2 linked regions of the Homo sapiens genome follow. The protein of the gene in region 2 purifies or fractionates together with the protein of the main gene of each other region. This does not show direct contact. Each region holds a gene or a part of one and is shown on either strand. Other genes may lie near its edges.

Region 1 (3,828 bases), on a different chromosome or scaffold from region 2:
GTATTTTCTATTTTTCTTGTGTCACTTTCTTATGGCTGCCTTCTGAATCTTGTTCTCAAGCCTGAACCTAAAAACAGGACTCAGTCCTCCAAGGCAGCATTTGTGGTAAATGGTGCTAGGAAACTATATGCTTTATCCCAACCAGATTAAAGATGTATATTAGCATATCAAAGATTACAAATGTCCTGAGGTAAAAAACAAAAAAAAGACCCACTAAATTCTATCTAAGCCCTGCTCTTCATAAATGTCCCAACACAGCTAGGGAAATAATGCTCATGAGAAGCTCAAGGATTACTAAACCAGCCTTCAAAAGTAATGATTTTCCAAGAAAGGGCCAAGCCTCCTGATGGACTATAAATGATTTAGAAAGCATGACCTTCGTGGCCATGCCTGTAACCCCAGCACTTTGGGAGGCCGAGGCGGGTGGATCACAAGGTCAGGAGATCGAGACCGTCCTGGCTAACACGGTGAAACCCCGTCTCTACTAAAAATACAAAAAATTAGCTGGGCATGGTGGCAGGCATCTGTAGTCCCAGCTACTCAGGAGGCTGAGGCAGGAGAATGGCATGAACCCAGGAGGCGGAGCTTGCAGTGAGCGGAGATCGCACCACTGCACTCCCTCCTGGGCGACACAGCGAGACTCAGTCTCAAAAAAAAAGAAAACATGACCTTCCTTTAATCCATAAAGCTACTTATGAATAAACTATTAAGCTAGTTACCAAGAGTTGCAAAAATGAAGACTTTACTAGAATGTACCAAAAACTTCAATTTGTATTCCACTAGTATATCCAGTTGCTGCAACTGGCAATGCTGCAAGCTCCTACCACATATGCATACTCAAAACGTAGAAGTCCGTAACTTTCAAGAGGGGCACTTGCCATCAGTGAAACTGTGTTGTCTTTAGTTGGTCTTCGTTTTCAATTGTCATTATTCTTGCCTTTTAATTAAATTACCATTAGGTTTGGCTCATCGTTATCAATTTAGTTTTTGGTTATTTTATTATAACTGTAGAGAATATATTGATACAATTCCATCACTAGGATTTGAGGCCTGCAGTTTTCTAATTAGTCTAGACTTTATGACAAGCATATTTTTTGTGATTCAATTAGGAACCATCCATATAGCTCTTCCCAAAAAATGCTTATACCTTGACAAGTGTTATTATTCCATTAGAAAGTAGAAATTATTGAGCTAAAGAATGACTCAGCCAAAAGGCTAGGACTAAAAAAGCTTGACAGGCACTGTTCTAAGGGTCCTCACTCTGGCTATGATGTCGCTAATGTACGGGCAAGTCTTAGCCCCAGCCAGCCTTTCCACATGAACCAAATGTGGCAAAAGAACTCAGAATCGGGATCAGTCATGTAAGCAGTAACTTCTTTGAACCTGGATGTCAATGATCCTTCCAGTGTCTAGTTTTGAGTGGGGAAAAAACAGCTTTTAGGAATGTATTTAAATGACTAAATCCCATAACAAACTCTCTTCTCAAAAATCTTTTCCTAGTTTATTTTTAAAACTTTGCCAAGTTCATAGACACAGCTTGCAACTAAATGCTGTTAGGCAAAGATCATCCTAGAAAGGTATAAAAAAGCATGAGGAAAATGTTTTAAGAACTGTGGATTCTTAATATCTGTTTCCAACTGTGGAATGGAATTAAGCTCCTAAAACACGCCTACCCTAATAAATCTTGTAACTATGGGTTATTATGTTAAAGATGGAAGGAGTATATGATGGCAAAGTAAAAACATTATGGTATAACATTTCAGGGAATTCTTAGCCAATTTACCAATAATCTAGTTACCATGCTAAAGTTAATATACTTCCTTCTCCAAATACTGAGATCCAGAATGAAAAGACAAACAAAATAAATAAGCACAATAGACTTACCAAAAATCAGGTAATGAGAAACAACGCTGTTGGGATTGCCATAACCAACAGACCTTAGGCAAGTCAACCTCTCTGATCACTCTTTAAATTTATTGAAGGAGAGGCCAGATCACTGATTGTTAAAATCTCTTCTGGCTTTCACAGTCTGTATTTTTACTACTATGTATTGGAATAAGTTGTTTCCTACTAGTAGATTAGGTACTTGAAAAATTATTAACTCCAACAGGTCACAAGGGTATCACTTTAAAGCAATTCACCTAATATTCACTGAACTTCGAACAGTCTGTGCACAGCTCTGTGGGGTCAAATGTCCCATTACCAGCTAATTCACCTGTTCCTATCTCCTGAGAATTCTGCTTATGCTCATAATCATTATCATAATTACATTTTAATTACAATCCACAAGTTTTTAAAACCACCTATTTCTAAGAAACTCATTTAGGGCCATTCCTCAAACTAAGTGAACTATGAGCACTTGTATCTCAGGGCTCCACTGAGAATCAATCCTTTGTCAGCCAAAAACAGTTTCTAAGCTCCTGCATTACTTCTGGTTGTTTCAACACAGATGTGAACCTCAAAATACTTTAGCAGATCCTTTCCTCCACAGATCTTAACTGCCTAAGGACACAGTAAGTCAAAGTTTTTACTTCTGGGGGAAAAAAAGGTATTTATGCATTTATTCATTCATATGTCATATATTCTACTTCCTGTTAATCCAGGATGGACAGGAGCCATAAATAAAGTACCACATGCTTATTCCAAAATCTTTAGTGAAATAATTCCTATTTATTAAACTGGCTACAGCTTGTTTTTCCCCAAGAATTCAATTAAGAATGTCTAATTTTTTAATTAGGCATTTGCAATAATAAGCTTTATCATTTTATCACTCTTAATAATTAAAAACACTTGTTTGTAAAAGGCAAGCAGAACACACAGAAAGATAATTGAGTTGAATTTTAGCAGTATGCTTTCTGCCTACACATTAAAGAATAAATTATTAAGACAGAATCCACAGACCCCCCAAGGATATTTGAACGTACATTTTTCTGATGAGATAGCACAACACTTTGAGGAGATGCTCAGAGAAGTTCATGACCTTTGACAAGCAATTTCTGCATTAGGGAATATACTTTAAGATTTTATTCTCAGAATACTTCAAAATAAGCTATAATGGTAACAATTCCCTAAATTCAAGGATTTCTCATGAATTATGCCAACATTTCTGGAAAAAATTTCATGTAAGACAAGAATGATCTAAACTAGATATTTCAAAATAATCTTAAAATTGTCAAATAGTTAACATTTAAGTTAAACACACACACACAACTGCACACCAAAGCTGATGGCACAAACCCACAAACATTCTAACAAGAATGGATCCATTAATACATGTGGTATTAAGATATTTAGAAGGCTTTTTAACAGAACGTGCCAAAAAATTAACCACGAACAGTGATATATTCACAAAGTAGTGTGTCCTAATTTCTGCTACAGCAACCGGCTTTGTTCAAGTTCTGATATAACATCTACAGTATGCCAATTACATGTTGTAGTAGTCTAAAAGATAAAGATAGAGAGATACAGATTTAGATATAACTTATTCTATAGCGCCAAAATTAGATTTCCTAACCGCACGCTTTATCCATGTGATTACCCTCACCTTATCCCTGAATGTTCTTTCTCTCTATCGCCACTTGTTTAAGTTCTACTTTCATTCTAAAATAATGTCAGTTCCCACTTAAGAGTCTCTACCACCAATTTTGGCACATGATCCAGTGTTGCTACATTCTGTTTCACATATGTACAGTCTCTTCAATTATATTATCCCTGCCCTACAGTAGCTTACTATATCTAATTTCTCGTGCCCAGAACAGTATAATGCTCAAGTCTCAAAATATATTTATATGAACAAATTTGCACCTCACTTGGATTAACATGTCTATT
Region 2 (3,828 bases):
AGTCATCACATCAAATCGCTGAGGACGCTAAAAGGCACAATAGTCTTCTACTTCAAAGAAGGCACTAGAATCTAGATATCCAACAAGTGGCCGTTAAATGACAAGAAAGCCATAGACTATTATGCAGGTGTTAAAAATGATGCTTTTAAAGAGTATTTACTAACATGGGAAAATGCTTATATTTTCCTGCTTTAAAAAAGCATGTGAGATTGTATATACACTGAACTCTATTCCATTTTAGTGCCATTCACACTGAATGCAACTCTTCTCCCATCCCTTTGCCTAGTACAAGGATCCTCAAAATGCAGTCCTCTAAGATGTAGTAACAGCTGTTAGAAATGCAAATTGTCAGGCCCCTCCTACCAGACCTGCTAAATCAGAAACCTCTGGGGTAGGGGGGAGCCAAGCAATCTGTTTTAATAAGCTCTCCAGACAACTCTGATGCTCAACAAATTGTGAAAACCACTGGCTACTTCTTAATAATTCTTCAGATTTCAGCTCACAGTTCTCAGGGAAGCCTTGCCTCACCCAACCTTCCATCCTGCAAGCAAAGATGAGTTTATTGTACCTCACAAGAACCAAGATTTTTCTTTCACAAGTTATTGCAGCTAAAATTATTTATGATTATGTAAGTAGAGTTTTTATCTCCAGTTGAGATATTTCAAGTCTAGTGACACATATGAATCACCTGGAAGTTCTCAAAAATCCTTGGCCATACCCCAGACCAAACAGAATTCACTGGAGTATGACTCAAGCATCTGTACTTTCTAAATATTGTGATTCCACTGTTTGGCCAAGGTTAAGAATCACTGTACCAGACTCAAGCTCCAGATGACCAGTAAACGGTGACCAGTATTTGTTGAATGAATATGTGGGTTTTTTCACTTTATTTTATAGGTTTTGTTTTGTTTCAGTCTTGCACATGATACAAAATTCCAAATGCACAGAAAGGGTTCAGTGAAAAGTGAAGTCTCCTTCTCTTCCTATCTCCTCTCAGAGGCAATGACTAGGACCAATGCCATGTTTCGTTAAAAGACTGAATATTTGTCAGTGCATACAGAAAAGACCACAGGTTGGATGGCAGGATTATAGATTATTTTACTGCTTCTTTATGCACATCTGAACTTTTTATAAAGTGTATACACATTACTTTCAATATTGGGAAAGGAGGTACCCTATGAATATTTGTATGGGGGTGCATCCAGAGCTATTTAGTAGATAAACACTGGGTCTTAGGGCTCCCACAACAATAGCCACTTAGAATGTACATACAGCTGTTCCATTTTGTCAAGTTCTTAGAAGAGACCTTTTACCTGGTTTAAGCGAGTAATTGCCCAATTATTCCACCTGCTTATTTTGGTTATATTTTCACTTCTCATTAGATATACAGCTTCTCCAGAACTTCTACCAGAAAATGGTGGGAGGGTGCACAAAGGAGGAGGTACTGTTCATCCTAGGAACCAGATTAAGAAGTGGAATCATGGTTTATAGATCTATCTTGTCTTGATTTAGTTAATATAAGCTCCTCTCCAAGACTGACCATCTCTGGGTGTATGAATATGAAAAGCTGAGGCCTGGACCCCAGGGTGGTGGCTGAACCCCTGAGCCCTTTTGACTCCATGCCAGTTAGTGAGTCTGTCTCAATACAGTACTTTGGAACAGGGCTGGACGTCTGAGATTTCTATAAGTAGAAACTGGAGTATGGAGAGCTTTACAACAATGGACCCAGACTTTTTTGGCTTTTGGGGTTTTTTAATTATCTTTTTCTTACTTTCTACCTCCCTTACTCTTATGGTCTAAGACCACTCCCCTCTGTTGTCAGTATGACTCATTCTAGCATCAACTCTTGGCCCCCTATCTTCCATTTTGTTTCCATAACTGGGTAGAAAATCAGCTTGCTAGGACTTTTAAAAATCTACTCTAATGTAGACCCAAGAGCTCTCTGAGGAGGCAAGAGCCTGGACTTGAGGGCCATTTCTTTAAGGACTTGTAGGCCTTTTACTATTTAACTCCTGATCCTTATCTCAGGCAGACATATGAGATAGAGGGGGAAAAAATGCCTTCTGTAGAGATAAAGCATTTCCTTGTTACCATTTTTCCCATATTTAGACAAAGACCAAGGTGTACGATCACAGTTAAGGGGTAAAATATTTGGATACGCACTTGGATAGGACCAAGGGGAAAATACACATAAGTTAGATAGTACACAGAAACAAGTAAGATAATATTGAGTTGGAAAGGGAGTAGCCACTCCAACATCTCCGAGTGCAACCTGCCACACAGATACTTAAGCATTGTCTTGTACTGTATACTAGTTGTTTTATGTGTGTTGATATAGTCTTCCGGACTGGAAGCACCTGAAGGCTAGGCCTTATCTCCTACTGCTTCAGTTTCCTCTCTCGTGCTGAGTCCAAAGCAAAGGTCTAATATTTAAATTGTGGCCGGGCGCGGTGGCTCACGCCTGTAATCCCAGCACTTTGGGAGGCCCAGGCAAGTGGATCACAAGGTCAGGAGATCGAGACCACGGTGAAACCCCATCTCTACTAAAAATACAAAAAATTAGCCGGGTGTGGTGGCGGGCGCCTGTAGTCCCAGCTACTCGGGAGGCTGAGGCAGGAGAATGGCGTGAAGCCGGGAGGCGGAGCTTGCAGTGAGCCAAGATCGCGCCACTGCACTCCAGCCTGGGTGACAAATCGAGACTCCGACTCAAAAAAAAAAAATTTAAATTGTATTAAATACTTCATAGTTGACAGACTAAAACAGACAACAGCATAAAATCAACTCTGCATAGTAAGATCACTATATCTTAAATGTGATAAATTTTTTAAAAATCATTATAACCAACATTCTATGCTGATAAGATGAATGTTGAAATTCACTGTAGCTGTGGCCATGATTAATTACAAGTTTAATCATGTATTTTAGGGTAAACCTATTTCCTTAATATCTCTTTTCTATTAAATTACATGCACTATGCTAATGTTAAGGGCCAAAGTAATTTCTGGGCTGATCAAATCTTTTGGGTTTGATTTTTTGAAAAGATACTTTGACAATTTAACAATACTATAAAATAAAATGAATAAGAACTAGCACAATCTTTTTAGGACTATGACAACATAATTAGACTAGAGTGTCTATAATTATGAAAGAAAATATTCTCAAATATTGTTTTATGAATTTCATGATGCATAATAAAGGAAAAACCTCTATCTCATTCACCATACATTTTAACAGTTTAATTTTATTCTACTGTGATAATGAAAAAAGGGATGCCCAATATTTATGCCAGGAAGAAAACTCTCCAAACATGCATCAAGCAAGTGTAATGTCTGTACTGTAGGTTTTATTTTAATCTCACAGCTAATTCAGAAAGTGAATAAAAATGTAAAGGAATATGGTATTTACATTGTAATTAAAGGTCACCCTGTATGCAAAATGTCAATGGTAAAGTGATGCCCCCAAGTGGCATAATGATAAATTGCAATACTTTGACGGAAAAGTTAAGTACTATGTACATACAGCTGTTCCATTTTGTCAAGTTCTTTGATTAAATATAGAAATGTATATAATGAATCTGTATTTCATAGAAACTAGTCATAAGTCCTACAAACTTATTGTCATTCCTTTAACACTGATACCAAGGGATAGTCTGATACCTTCCTTATGAGCTCAAAAAGTTAAGGGTGTATCTGCAAAACAAAAAGGGAAGTCATATCTATTCTGATGTGTTGAAGGAATAGCATTCATACCATTATAGAAGTCTGTATAAAGTATTCATCTTCTAGCCACCTCTAACATTAACCAATTCCTTATGTTTGTGGTCTAGTA

The links.
Region 1: the proteins of NEK11 (region 2) and FAR1 purify together in Homo sapiens (affinity purification with mass spectrometry; one large-scale study listed by BioGRID and IntAct). This does not show direct contact.

Annotation. Positions count from the first base shown.
Region 1 is NC_000011.10:13,675,104-13,678,931, reverse strand, and holds part of FAR1 (fatty acyl-CoA reductase 1), read right to left. Parts: intron 1-3,828. UniProt on the Homo sapiens protein: Catalyzes the reduction of saturated and unsaturated C16 or C18 fatty acyl-CoA to fatty alcohols. It plays an essential role in the production of ether lipids/plasmalogens which synthesis requires fatty alcohols.
Region 2 is NC_000003.12:131,033,298-131,037,125, reverse strand, and holds part of NEK11 (serine/threonine-protein kinase Nek11), read right to left. Parts: intron 1,454-3,828; exon of another isoform or gene 1,314-1,453; intron 1-1,313. UniProt on the Homo sapiens protein: Protein kinase which plays an important role in the G2/M checkpoint response to DNA damage. Controls degradation of CDC25A by directly phosphorylating it on residues whose phosphorylation is required for BTRC-mediated polyubiquitination and degradation.